4 linked regions of the Homo sapiens genome follow. The protein of the gene in region 1 purifies or fractionates together with the protein of each later gene. This does not show direct contact. Each region holds a gene or a part of one and is shown in the gene's direction. Other genes may lie near its edges. The genes, in order: RELB, XPNPEP3, NQO2 and HSD17B4.

What was found.
Region 2: the proteins of RELB (region 1) and XPNPEP3 purify together in Homo sapiens (affinity purification with mass spectrometry, with the first as the bait; one large-scale study listed by BioGRID). This does not show direct contact.
Region 3: the proteins of RELB (region 1) and NQO2 purify together in Homo sapiens (tandem affinity purification; one large-scale study listed by IntAct). This does not show direct contact.
Region 4: the proteins of RELB (region 1) and HSD17B4 purify together in Homo sapiens (tandem affinity purification; one large-scale study listed by IntAct). This does not show direct contact.

The regions. Positions count from the first base shown.
Region 1 is NC_000019.10:45,014,897-45,018,467, forward strand, and holds part of RELB (transcription factor RelB), read left to right. Parts: intron 1-3,571.
Region 2 is NC_000022.11:40,930,099-40,933,337, forward strand, and holds the end of XPNPEP3 (xaa-Pro aminopeptidase 3), read left to right. Parts: 3' UTR 1-2,717; downstream 2,718-3,239. UniProt on the Homo sapiens protein: Catalyzes the removal of a penultimate prolyl residue from the N-termini of peptides, such as Leu-Pro-Ala. Also shows low activity towards peptides with Ala or Ser at the P1 position.
Region 3 is NC_000006.12:3,006,384-3,009,954, forward strand, and holds part of NQO2 (ribosyldihydronicotinamide dehydrogenase [quinone]), read left to right. Parts: intron 1-84; 5' UTR 85-169; coding exon 170-176; intron 177-3,571. UniProt on the Homo sapiens protein: The enzyme apparently serves as a quinone reductase in connection with conjugation reactions of hydroquinones involved in detoxification pathways as well as in biosynthetic processes such as the vitamin K-dependent gamma-carboxylation of glutamate residues in prothrombin synthesis.
Region 4 is NC_000005.10:119,539,470-119,542,876, forward strand, and holds the end of HSD17B4 (peroxisomal multifunctional enzyme type 2), read left to right. Parts: intron 1-2,435; coding exon 2,436-2,525; 3' UTR 2,526-2,863; downstream 2,864-3,407. UniProt on the Homo sapiens protein: Bifunctional enzyme acting on the peroxisomal fatty acid beta-oxidation pathway.

The DNA.
Region 1 (3,571 bases):
TTCAGGATTTTTTTTTTTTTTTTTGAGACGGAGTCTTGCTCTGTTGCCCAGGCTGGAGTGCAGTGGTGTGATCTCAGCTCACTGCAACTTCCGCCTCCTGGGTTCAAGCGATTCTCCTGTCTTAGCCTCCCAAGTAGCTGGGATTACAGGTGTGCACCACCATGCCCAGCTAATTTTTGTATTTTTAGTAGAGACAGGGTTTCACCACATTGGCCAGGCTGATGTCAAACTCCTGCCCTCAGGTAATCCACCTGCCTCGGCCTCCCAAAGTGCTGGGATTACAGGCATGAGCCAGCATGCCTGGCTTGGATTCAGGATGTTTATCCCCATCTTCAGAGTAGGAAACTGAGGTTAAAAGAGGGGCAGTTACCTGCACAGGGCACACAGCAAGTTTACTATTGTAATTACCGCCATTTACTGAGTGCTTCCATGTACCAGGTACTTTGCATACCTATTTTACACATAAAGACAGTAAGACCCGAGAGGTTTATCTTGTAGATGGCCAGTGGTAGAGCCTGGATTTGGTGCCAGGTCGGACTTATTCTAAAGCCTAATGGGCCAGGCATGGTGGCTCATGCCTGTGATCCCAGCACCTTGGGAGACTAAGGCAGGAGGATCACTTGAGGCCAGGAGTTCAAGACCAGCCCAGGTGACATGGCAAGATGCCCGTCTCTATAAAAATAAAAAAATTAGCCAGGCGTGGTGGCATGCGCCTGGGGTCCCAGCACCATGGGAGGCTGAATGGGGAGGATTGCTTGAGCCTGGGAAGTGGAGGCTGCAGTGAGCCATGGTCACACCACTGCACTCCAGTCTGGGTGACAGAGAAAGATGCTATCTCAAAAAAAAAAAAGAAAAAAGAAACAACTAAAGTCTAATGTTTTTTCCACAGTCCCAACTGACATCTCAAGGATGAAAAGCTTTCAGCCCTGGAGTCTGCATGAGTCCGAGACTGTTGACTCTAAGCTTTTCAGAATCTCCTACTATTACAGCGGGGAGCTGGTTAAATGAATGGTTTTAACCCTATCTGACCCAGTGAGATTTGTAGACAATATTACCTACCTCTATTCACAGTCACTCCCAAAGTCCATATTTTATTTTATTTTATTATTATTTTTTTTTTGAGATGCAGTCTCGCTCTGTCACCCAGGCTGGAGTGCAGTGGCATGCAACCTCCGCCTCCTGAGTTCAAGTGATTCTCCTGCCTCAGCCTCCCGGGTAGCTGAGATTACAGGCACCTGCCAGCAGGCCCGGCTAATTTTTGTGTTTTTAGTAGAGACGGGGTTTCACCATGTTGGCCAGGCTGGTCTCGAACTCCTGACCTCAAGTGATCTGCCTGCCTCAGCCTCCCACAGTGCTGGGATTACAGGCGTGAGCCACCGTGCCTGGCCAAAACTCCATATTTTACACCAAACTGTAGTATAAAAGAGAAAGAAAAGGAAATTAATACAGCATATATAATCACATTTATTTCAATATGTAAACGCCCCACAGGATATATGAGGAAGGTGGCAGTTGTTTGTGACTATATATAGGCTCCTTGTTAATGCCGTGGCCACAAATGCAGCCTGACCCAGCTGCGCAGACTTAGTGACTTATATGTCACACGTGCAGGGTTGCGGTTGGTGAGGGGATTTTCCAAAGTGGCGAACAACTCTTGGTCTAAACAATTAGTGTGCTGGTTGCAATCTTTGAAAATTCAGTGGGTATTACAGTTATGGGAAACTCCAGCCTGGGTGACAGAGTTAGACCTCGTCTCAAAAAAGAAAAAGGAAAAACAATTATGGGAAAGAATATTATTGGTGTCAAACAGAGCAAGGGCCAGGTGTGATGCATGCCTGTAAGCCCAGATGTTTGGGAGACTAAAGTGGAAGTATTGCTTGAGTCTGGGAGGCGGAGGTTGCAGTGAGCTGAGATCGTGCCATTGCACTCCAGCCTGTGCGAGATCCTGTCTTAAAAACAAACAAACAAACAAACAAACAAATCCACTCAGCAACAATAGAGCAAGTTTCTGGGATCTGGTCATTTTAAACAGGTTTCTTATTGACTCGAATCTTTGGCAGGATGTTCAGAAGGCTTGCTGGCTGTGGGATGGCTGTGCGGGACTGTCCCTGGTATTATAAACTGTCCAGCATAACTGGTCCTGTCTACTTGCGGTAGGGTCCACATCAGTGTCAACCAGCCACCCCCCAAATCCCATTTTTCCCCTAGGGGGCAGCACTCCCCCACTGAGACCAATGGTTAATGGTATTTTATAGGCTTGGGCTTTAGAAGTTCAGAGCAGGCTTCAGAAGGTATTTAATGCCAGCAGGGCTGAGCCAGTGACTCAAAGCTGCCAAGTGGGACTGGCCCTGCCTAACGGGGCTGGTTTTTATTTGCTGCTGCCTGTGGCTGCTGAGCAAAAATTCTGGCTTCACTTGCTATATCTTCCTTTTTTAAAAAAGAAAAATCTGGGGAGGCCGAGGTGGGCGGACCACCTGAGGTTAGGAGTTCGAGGCCCTGGAGGCTGGGATCGCACCACTGCACTCCAGCCTGGGCAACAGAGAGAATCTGTCTAAAAAAAAAAAAAACAATTCTGGAAATCCGAAATAATGTGATGTCTTATAATTTTAATTGTGGGCTCCAAGTTTTTCCTAATCTTTTACTTGGAAAAAAAAGTTTTAGTTTTTTCCTGTCTAGTTTTTCTTTTTAAGTTTTATTGAGGTATAATTGATGTAAGAAAAATTGCACATACTTAATGTATACATTTTGATGAATTTGTTATTATTCCTTTTTTTTTTTTTTTGAGACAGAGTTTTGCTCTTGTTGCCCAGGCTGGAGTGCAATGGTGCGATCTCTGCCTCTCAGGTTCAAGCAGTCCTCTTGCCTCAGCCTCCTGAGTTGGTAGGATTACAGGCCTGTACCATCATGCCTGGCTAATTTTGTATTTTTAGTAGAGAGGGGGTTTTGCCATGTTGCCCAGGCTGGTCTCGAACTCCTGGCCTCAGGTGATCCACCCGCCTCAGCCTCCCAAAGTGCTGGGATTGCAGGCACGAACCACCGTGCCCAGCCCTTTTGATTAGTTTGGATGATAAAAGAATTTAAACCTAGAGACCAGGCGCGGTGGCTCACGCCTGTAATCCCAGCATTTTGGGAGGCCGAGGCAGGTGGATCACCTGAGGTCAGGAGTTCGAGACCAGCCTGGCCAACATGGAGAAACCCCATCTATACTAAAAATACAAAAATTCTTGGCCGAGCGTGGTGGCTCAGGCCTGTAATCCCAGCACTTTGGGAGACTAAGGCAGGCAGATCACAAGGTCAGGAGGTGGAGACCATCCTGGCTAACATGGTGAAACCCCGTCTCTACTAAAAATACAAAAAATTAGCCAGGTGTGGTGGCGGGCGCCTATAGTCCCAGCTACTCGAGAGGCTGAGGCAGGAGAATGGCGTGAACCCAGGAGGTGGAGCGTGCAGTGAGCTGAGATCGTGCCACTGCACCCCAGCCTGGCCAACAGAGCGAGACTCCATCTCAAAAAAGTAAAATAAAATAAAAATACAAAAATTAGCCAGGCATGGTGGCAGGCACCTGTAATCT
Region 2 (3,239 bases), on another chromosome or scaffold:
TTTTTTTTTTAAAGGTTTTTTGTGGGGTTTTTTTGTTTTTTTTTTTTTTGAGATGGAGTCTCGCTCTGTCACCCAGGCTGGAGTGCAGTGGCACGATCTTGGCTCACTGCAACCTCCATCTCCCGGGTTCAGGCAATTCTTCTGCCTCAGCCTCCTGAGTAGCTGGGACTACAGGCGCGTGCCACCATGCCCGGCTAGTTTATTGTATTTTTAGTAGAGATGGGGTTTTACTGTGTTAGCCAGGATGGTCTCAATCTCCTGACCTCATAATCTGCCCACCTCAGCCTCCCAAAGTGCTGGGATTACAGGCGTGAGCCACTGCACCCAGCCTTTTTAAAGTTTTTAATTGACATATAATTGTACGTATTTACAGGGTAAATAATGATGTTTTGATACATATATAATGATCAGATCAGAACAATTAGCATATCCATCACATTGAACATTTATCATTTATTTGTGTTGAGCCTTTAGTTCTTTTTTTTTTTTGAGATAGAGTCTCACTCTGTCACCCAGGCTGGAGTACAGTGGTGTGATCTTGGCTCACTGCAACCTCCACCCACCGGCTTCAACCAATTCTCCTGCCTCAGCCTCCCTAGTAACTGGGATTACAGGCACCTGCCACCACACCCAATTTTTGTATTTTTAGTAGAGACGGGGTTTCACCATCTTGGCCAGGCCAGGCTGGTCTTGATCTCCTGACCTTGTGATCCACCCACCTCAGCTTCCCAAACTGCTGGGATTACAGGCATGAGCCACGGCCCCCAGCCAGAGACAGTCTTGCTTTGTCGCCAGGCTGGAGTGTAGTGGCGCCATCTTGGCTCACTGCAACCTCCAACTCCCTGGTTCAAGCAGTTCTCCTGCCTCAGCCTCCCAAGTAGCTGGGATTACAGGCACGCACCACCATGCCCAGCTAATTTTTGTATTTTTAGTAGAGACAGGGTTTCACCATGTTGGCCAGGATGGTCTTGATCTCCTGACCTCGTGATCTGCCCACTTTGGCCTCCCAAAGTGCTGGGATTACAGGTGTGAGCCACCGTGCCCAGCCGAGCCTTTAGTTCTAAGTATAATAAATAATATATATACCAGGCATTCCTATTAAAAATCTTAACTTAAAAAAAATTACTCAAATGTTACTACTGGAATTTTTCTCCCTGAATTGAAGATACATGGTTAGATCATTAACAATACCACCTAAATGAAGGAAACATATCTGGATATCCAGTGTCACATACTTTTATGTATTTATTTCAGGAATTACTATTTTGTCACCATAATTAGGAAACAGACTGTGTTCTTTATTTGAAACACAACAGTATAAATACTATAGTAAAGTTGGGTGCAGTGGATCACAGCTATAATCCCAGCACTTTGGGAGACCAAGGAGGGATGGTCACTTGAGCCCAGGAGTTTGAGACCAGCCTAGGCAACATAGAGAGACCTTGTCTCAACAAAAAAATTTAAAGTTAGCCAGGTGTGGTGGTTTGCACCTATAGTCCCAGCTACTCAGGAGGCTGAGGTGGGAGGATCGCTTGAGCTTAGGAGGTCAAGGCTGCAGTGAGCCATGATTGTGCCACTTCACCCTGGGCAACAGAGAAAGACCCTGTCTCAATAAAAAAGAAGAGAAAAACTGGAGTGAGAACTCTCCTCCTCTCATAATCATAGTATCCACGTTAGGAAAATGCTTCTGAGAGTAACTTAAAGTACTGTGTGTGCATCTTCCTTCAAAACCTTGCTTTTTTCTCCGTTTTTGTAAGGTGAGAAAGGGAAAAACCTTCACCGTAGAAATACTGTCTTGAGATTAAGATACAAATAAAACATGTTAAACCTCCATCTAAAGACATTGCAACTTATTAAAACAGAAAAATGTACCTTTGTTATGTCTTTCCAAATATCCACACCCACACCCTGTTCAGCTTTGTTAATAATACAGAGATCAGAAATGTGAAGCACAAATGCTGCTTCTCCCCCTCCTGTTCCCATGTCAGAGATGGAGAAGAAAGCACAGTGAGCTGTTCACCAGTCCAGCGGTGACCTCGGAGTCCTTTGTAACAGTGTTTCCAATAACTTCTGCCAATAAAACAGAATTTGAGTTAGAACCTATCTGCTGTCCCTCAACTAGTGTCTGATAGCTGAGAATGTAATTCGTTTGTGTGTCTATTAGAAAATTAGGCAGGCACCACAGACAGTAGCAACATAAAGGAACCTGCTTAGAAGAGGTTTTTATGGTGTGATTGTGTTTTTTTTTTTTTAATTTTTGTTTCCTGAAGTAGAATCCATAGCTCAAAACAAGTTTTAAGCCTGAGAAAATATAATTTGAGGTGTTTTTTATGCTCCTAATGAAAAGATGAATGAATGCATCATTAAACCTTAACAGTAGAGCAGAATTTCACTGTTACAAACCACATGGGTTCTCCTGGTTGTGCTGCTGTTCTCTACCTGTGTGTCACTGAGTTTGAGCATCATTATTGTTTGAATCAGAGGACCCACTGGAATCAAGGCTTCTTGGAATTGCGCAAGAATCTGAGAAAACTTCAATCTTTACCAGCATTTCTTAATGCTTTCCATGACTTTTGTGCAATTATATAAGTTCAGTTTAGACAAAATGCTGTTACTTTTTAAGGCATTACTAATAACTGAAAATAGTTACGTCATTGCCCATCAAGGGAAAAGCACTTGTAACTGTCATTTAAAAAAAATAAAACTATAAAACAATATAGAGGGGTATGGTGTGTGTGTGTTACTTTAGAATCTAGAGTTTACGGTCTATTTAGTATAAACAGTATAAACGTGAGACCATCTGGTTTTACAAAATAATTTACAAAGTATTCATTAGCTGCTGTCACAAAATCATGATAGCAAACTTGAAATGATTTTATCAGTCTTATAGAGGAAGAATCTGGTGGATTTGATCCAGCCTATTAAAAGGTTGGCACAAAACTGACTGAAAGGTCTCCAGAAAGTCCCCATAACACTCAAGACTGTAAACTGTAGCCATGCACATTTTATGAAGGATGAATTTTGTGGGGAAATAGGATCAAGTTGCAAAATTATGAATATTTGACCTTTGTCAACCATATAATGAATCGTAAGTGTAGCCATCTCTCTCTCCCTGTTAGGAACCATCTTTAAAATCTGAGACTGTCTATGAGGAGTACCTTTAACATTTCTCACGTTCTGGCAGGCACAAAAAGATACTTTGTATGGCACAATGGAACAAATTTGAGGGGGCTGAGTGG
Region 3 (3,571 bases), on another chromosome or scaffold:
GAAGCAGCAGTGATGCCTAGATGTGGTACATTCGACCTCACCTATGCCTCTCCCCACCCCCTCTGGGTTCGTTTTGTCTTCCAGATTGCTGGACTCGCTGAAGAGAGACTACGCAGGAAAGCCCCAGCCACCCATCAAATCAGAGAGAAGGAATCCACCTTCTTACGCTATGGCAGGTAATGATTCACTATTGTGGAGTAAGACTTTTTTTTTTTTGAGATGGGATTTTGTTGTATTGCCCAGGCTGGTCTCAAACTCCTGAGCTCAAGTGACCCTCCCACATTGACCTTCCAGGTGGGAGTTAGACTCTTAATCAGAAATTGGATACATTGTTGTAAAAAATCCAAGCCACGTGGAAGTGTATAAACTATCTGGAATTATCTTGTTTTCTATGTTCTCACTTGTTTCATTGTTCCTTTCGACTCCCTCCAGAATTTAGGTTCCTCAAAAGTGGGGCCCTGCCTATCCTGTCTTTGCTGTGCCTCCAGGCCCTGAAATTCTCCCTGGGCTGTAGCAGGGGCTCAAGTGAATGAACCCCAGGAGGCATCTTGGGTAAAAATTCAGTACGATTCTATCTTTGCTTTTGCAACTGCTTATCATGCACATATACATGAACATGCAATCTCTCAACTTTTTAATTTCACCTAACGATATAACATGGAGAGCCTTTCGTGTTAGAACGCACAGGTTCACCTTACTCTATACATTATGGTGTAGATTCGGATTTTCGCCCTTGGCACCACTGACATTCTGGGCCAGATAATCCTATGTTTTGGGGGGTCATCCTGTGCACCCTGTTTAGCACCTAGCACCATCCCTGGCCTCTGCCCACCAGATGCCAGTAGCACCCCTCCCCCACCGGCTGTGACAAACCAAAATGTCTCCAGGCATTGAGAAACGTCCCCTAGCAGGCACAACACTGCCCCAGTTGAGAACCATTGGTGTAGGTATTTCATTTGCATCTATTCTCCTGTTAAGCCCCTAAGTATAGTTCCTTTATTGAAACAAGAGTCTGAGAAAGTAAAATTAAAATGTTAACCATGAATCTAACTTATGGAATTCAACCTTTGTAGCCAGCTCAATGCCCTGAAACCCATTGCTTCAAACTGATACGTGTATCTTTTCCTTAAAGTGTCATTATGAAAAATTTAAATCAAGAGTTTAACATCTTCTTAAAGGTGACCAGGGTAAATTTAATTAAGCAAATCACCAGGCTGCCTCCCAGACGAAGTCAGTATATAAGCCTGGAGACTCTTTCCAATGAGGAAAATACTGCTTCAGAAGCCCCTGGTGTGAACGATACTGCCAGTGCCAGGAGGGCCTGACTCTTCCTAGAGTCCTCTTTGTTATCAGCATCACCACTGAAAGATGGGCTCCATGTGGCCCTGCCTTCCCATGAGACCAGCGGGTCTGATTCCTCATGTTTTGTTTAAGTGTCAGATTTGATGGACTGGGGGAGATGGAAGCAGAACTGTGCCACACTGAAAGGTGCCTGTAGCTGATATCTGCAAATGTAGGGTTAGCATGGAAGACTAATTCCAGCAGTTCTTTATTTTGGTGTTAGGGAGCTGGTCTAAACCTTCTTACAGAGGATAACCAAATTAGGTTGGGCTTTTAAAAGATTTAGTGGTGGTATTTTTGAGGAGATATAATTTGACCCATTGTATTGTGATGTTGAGCTATGAATAACTGGATTTTTAAAATGCCCATTGCTTTAAAACTGCCACCTATTAGAAAGTTTGGTATTTCTGGGGCCAGGTGCTGTGGCTCATACCAGTAATCCCAGCACTCTGGGAGGCCAAGGTGGGCAGATCACCTGAGGTCGGGAGTTCGAGACCAGCTTGACCAACATGGAGAAACCCGGTCTTAACTAAAAATACAAAAAATTATCCGGGCGTGGTGGCGCATGCCTGTAATCCCAGCTACTCAGGAGGCTGAGGTAGGAGAATTGCTTGAACCCGGGAGGCAGAGGTTGCAGTGAGCTGGGATCGTTGCTCCAGCCTGGGCAACAAGAGCGAAACTCTGTTTCAAAAAAAAAAAAAAAGAAAAAGAAAAAAGGAAAGAAAAGAAAGTTTGGTGTTTCTGGCCAAGTGCGGTGGCTCATGCCTGTAATCCCAGCACTTTGGGAGGCCAAGGCGGGTGGATCACTTGAGGCCAGGAGTTCAAGACCAGCCTGGCCAACATGGCAAAATCCCATCTGTACTAAAAATACAAAAAATTAGCTGGGCGTAGTGGCACACATCTATCGGGGGAAATTCAGCCAGATATTGGGCGAAATTCACCCCCAATATTTCACGTAGGTTCTTTTCTATATTTCCTAAGTGTCGGCCGGTCTGAGAAATAAACGGACAGAGTACAAAAGAGAGAAATTTTAAAGCTGGGTGTCCAGGGGAGACATCACATGTCGGCAGGTTCCGTGATGCCCCCAAGCCGTAAAACCAGCAAGTTTTTATTAGTGATTTTCCAAAGGGGAGGGAGTGTACAAATAGAGTGTGGGTCACAGAGATCACATGCTTCACAAGGTAATAGAATATCACAAAGCAAATGGAGGCAGGGCGAGATCACAGGACCACGGGACGGGGCGAAATTAAAATTGCTAATGAAGTTTTGGGCACCATTGTCATTGAGAACATCTTATCAGGAGCCAGGGTTTGAGAGCAGACAACCGATCTGACCAAAATTTATTAGGCAGGAATTTCCTTGTCTTAATAAGCCTGGGAGCGCTACGGGAGACTGGGGCTTATTTCATCCCTACAGCTGGACCATAAAAGACAGCTGCCGCCCCGAAGCGGCCATTTCAGAGGCCCACCCTCAGGGACGCATTCTCTTTCTCAGGGATGTTCCTTGCTGAGAAAAAGAATTCAGCGATATTTCTCCCATTTGCTTTTGAAAGAAGAGAAATATGTCTCTGTTCCGCCTGGCTCACCGGCAGTGAGAGTTTAAGGTTATCTCTCTTGTTCCCTGAACATTGCTGTTATCCTGTTCTTTTTTCAAGGTGCCCAGATTTCATATTGTTCAAACACACATGCTCTGCAAACAATTTGTGCAGTTAACACAATCATCACAGGGTCCTGAGGCAATATACATCCTCCTCAGCTTATGAAGATGATGGGATTAAGAGATTAAAGTAAAGACAAGCATAGGAAATCACATGGGTATTGATTGGGGAAGTGATAACTGTCCATGAAATCTTCACAATTTACGTTCAGAGATTGCAGTAAAGACAGGCATAAGAAATTACAAAAGTATTAATTTGGGGAACTAATAAATGTCCACGAAATCTTCACAATTTATATTCTTCTGCCATGGCCTCAGCCAGTTGCTCCATTCGGGGTCCCTGACTTCCCACGAAACACACCTGTAGTCCCAGCTAGTCAGGAGACTGAGGCATGAGAATCACTTGAACCTGGGAGGCAGAGGTTGCAGTGAGCTGAGATCATGCCACTGCATTCCAGCCTGGGTGACAGAGTGAGACTGTCTAAAAAGAAGAGAGAGAAAGAGACAGAAAGAAAAGAAAATTTGATATTTCTTAGCTTCAATTACTATGATGCACCTGAACATTCAATTTTCA
Region 4 (3,407 bases), on another chromosome or scaffold:
TATACCTAATGCTAAATGACGAGTTAACGGGTGCAGCACACCAACATGGCACATGTATACATATGTAACAAACCTGCGCATTGTGCACATGTACCCTAGAACTTAAAGTATAATAATAATAATAAAAAAGAAGAAGTGGACAAAAGGTATGGAACAATAATTAATGAAATAAATAGAAATGACTAACATACAAAAGAAAAAAATTTTTCCCAGTATCCAAAAATACAAATTAAAGCATGTTATTTTTGCCTCATATTTTCAAAGTGTAAGAAAATAGTATTTTTAAGGTTGGGATAAGATAATTTACACACAACTGGAGGGAATATAAAATTGGTATAGGCCAGGGACAATGTCTCGTGCCTGTAGTTCCAGCACTTTGGGAGGCCAAGGCAGGAGGATTGCTTGAGTCCAGGAGTTTGAGCCTGGGTGAGACAGTGAGACCCTGTCTCTACCAAAAAAAAAAAAAAAAAAAAATTAGCCTGGTGTGGTGGCACACACCTGTAGTCCCAGCTACTTGAGAGGCTGAGTTGGGAGGATCACTTGAGCCCAGGAGGCTTAGGCTGCAGTGAGTGTGATCATGCAGCTGTAGCCTGGGTGACAGAGCAAGACCCTGTGTCAATCAATCAGTAGTTGGTATAGCCTTTCTGGAAAGCACAGTGCTTCCAGACCTTCTTCCTTTATGGCAGTTTATAGTCTTACTACTTTTTGCATGGCACTCCTAGGCCAAACCATATACCTAACAGTTTCATTTATGAAGTAGTTCAAAACAATTAGTTTTTTGTGTTCAACCAGTATGACTGTATTTCCCTCCCAAATTAACAGTATTGGGAAAGTGTCCCTGAGAGAGTTTGCTGTGATGTCCGGTGCATGGCAGTGCAGAGTTTGGAAACTGGCAATATGGACGTATGGTTAAGGGCTTTAAGAAATAAGAAAATAGATAGGAGGAAAGATTTATGTACAAAATTCTTCTGCTCAAAAATGTCCAAAATTGATATTTTTACTTCTAGTAATTAGGTGTTCTTGTTTTAGGTTGTAAATCTCTTTCAGAGTTTAGTACATAGCAGGCTGGCCTAAGTACTGACTCCTTCCCTGCATGAGTTGCAGACCATCGTTTTGTTTGTTTGTTTTTTGTAACTGCATAGTGAAAGAAATCTTAGTTTTGAAATTCTGGTCTCCTGTTTGAATGCATTTGATTGTGACTGAATGAGCTCTCTCTGACTATTTCTGGAATAAAAAGTTGTTGCCTTTTCTCCAGTTCACGAGGGTTTGCTTCTGAGACTAAGTGCTGCTCGTTAACAAGTATTGTTAACAAGCATTGCTGAGCAAAGAACACCTGAGTTTAAGCCCTGGCCCTACTTCTTGCTGGCTCTGTAGACTTGAGCAGGTTATTTAATAAGCTCTCTGAAATTCAGTTTCTCATCTGTCAACTGGGGTAAGAACTGCTGATGTGCCCACTTCAAATTGACAGCTGTAATTCTTAAATGAGATTATATTTGTGGAGCTGCTTTGTAATGCTCAGTGTATGTAGGTATCACTATTTTTTCCATTTAGCTAGAAATCTAGAGGCTTTTTCACTTCATATTTTATGTAAGCTATAAAAACTATGATTGATTATTTTTATTTTACTGATAGGGAATTTACACTGAAGGAGAACTTAAGGAACTTGCACCAGTTTCTGTATCAGGTTAGATACAAAACTGCTACAGGAACCCTTCGTTTTTAACACACCAGCTTTTGCTTGGTAATGATGAATTAATACTCTCTTATCACATGTCAAACTACTAAGCTAAGCACTCTACACATTACTTTATTTAACACGCACAACAGAGTTGTGTTATTTAGGGACTGTTGTTATGCCTTTTATAGATGAGGAGATTGAAACTCACAGAGGCCACGTATCTAAGCATTTTCTCAAGCTCACCTTGCTATTAAGGGGCACAGCCTGGATTTTAACTCAGGCATTCTGATGCTACAGCTGTGATCTATTCAACATTGTGTTATATTCTCTAATTTGTCATTTCGTGGCTTTCTAGTTCATGAAACTGTAGTAAATATTTTAAATCTGCTTTTAGAAGTTCTGAATTGAATATTTTTATTAGGAATACAGTGTAGCCTTTTATTAATATGGTCTCAAATTGTAAGAACATAAAGTAAAGCCAGAAACGTAGGTTGAAACAGAACTCCCAGATCCATGAGTTCAGATAAATTATTGTATAGTTTTCTAAAATACACAGGAATGATTTTTCTTTTTTTTAGATGTCTAAAAAAATGTGCTATCTGTAGTTATTAAATTGTCATTGCTAAATAAAGGTTGCCTTTGTTGTCCAGAATTATTAGCTCAATTGTATTCAGTCTGAATAATCTTAAAAAAAAAAAAAAGAAATAAACTATAACATGGTAACAGTTGGCACTCTTTTTCCCTCCTCTCCTTGCAGGCATTCTTTAGTGGCAGGCTGAAGGCCAGAGGGAACATCATGCTGAGCCAGAAACTTCAGATGATTCTTAAAGACTACGCCAAGCTCTGAAGGGCACACTACACTATTAATAAAAATGGAATCATTAAATACTCTCTTCACCCAAATATGCTTGATTATTCTGCAAAAGTGATTAGAACTAAGATGCAGGGGAAATTGCTTAACATTTTCAGATATCAGATAACTGCAGATTTTCATTTTCTACTAATTTTTCATGTATCATTATTTTTACAAGGAACTATATATAAGCTAGCACATAATTATCCTTCTGTTCTTAGATCTGTATCTTCATAATAAAAAATTTTGCCCAAGTCCTGTTTCCTTAGAATTTGTGATAGCATTGATAAGTTGAAAGGAAAATTAAATCAATAAAGGCCTTTGATACCTTTGTTTTTTTGTGATTTTCTGTTTTTTTATTTATTGATACCCCAGTTTTTATGTGAATTTCCATGTATGCACTCATTTTTCATACTTTGTTCTGATAGTATTCTCTTTTAAAGCAAGAGAAAAGTCTTTGTGCTCCCAAATAGTTTTCTTTCTTCTCCCCTCCCCTTTGCTGGAAATTCTTTACTACATATAATGTTTATAAATCTACCAAGTGTAGCTTTCTTGAAGAATCAGCAGTCTCAAAACAGAAAGATAGTCACTAGCAAGTACTGCCACATCACTGTTTTCCTCAGCATTTAGCTCTGATGAAGTGCACTGGGAGATGCTCTTTGGATGAGTTGGCTGCAGAGGTGACCAGCAGCAGGTGGTATGCTAAGCTCAGAGATGGAGTAAATTTCAATCAGGTAACACAGCTGAGGAGAATATGTGTGGGTGGCTAGTATGGGCTGAGTTTCCCAGGAAGCTGACTTTCAGATGGAGATTCATGTGCAGGAAGTTGATTTGGGAGGTGCTTTTATGAGCAGCACCTGCCAGGAGAAGCAAAGG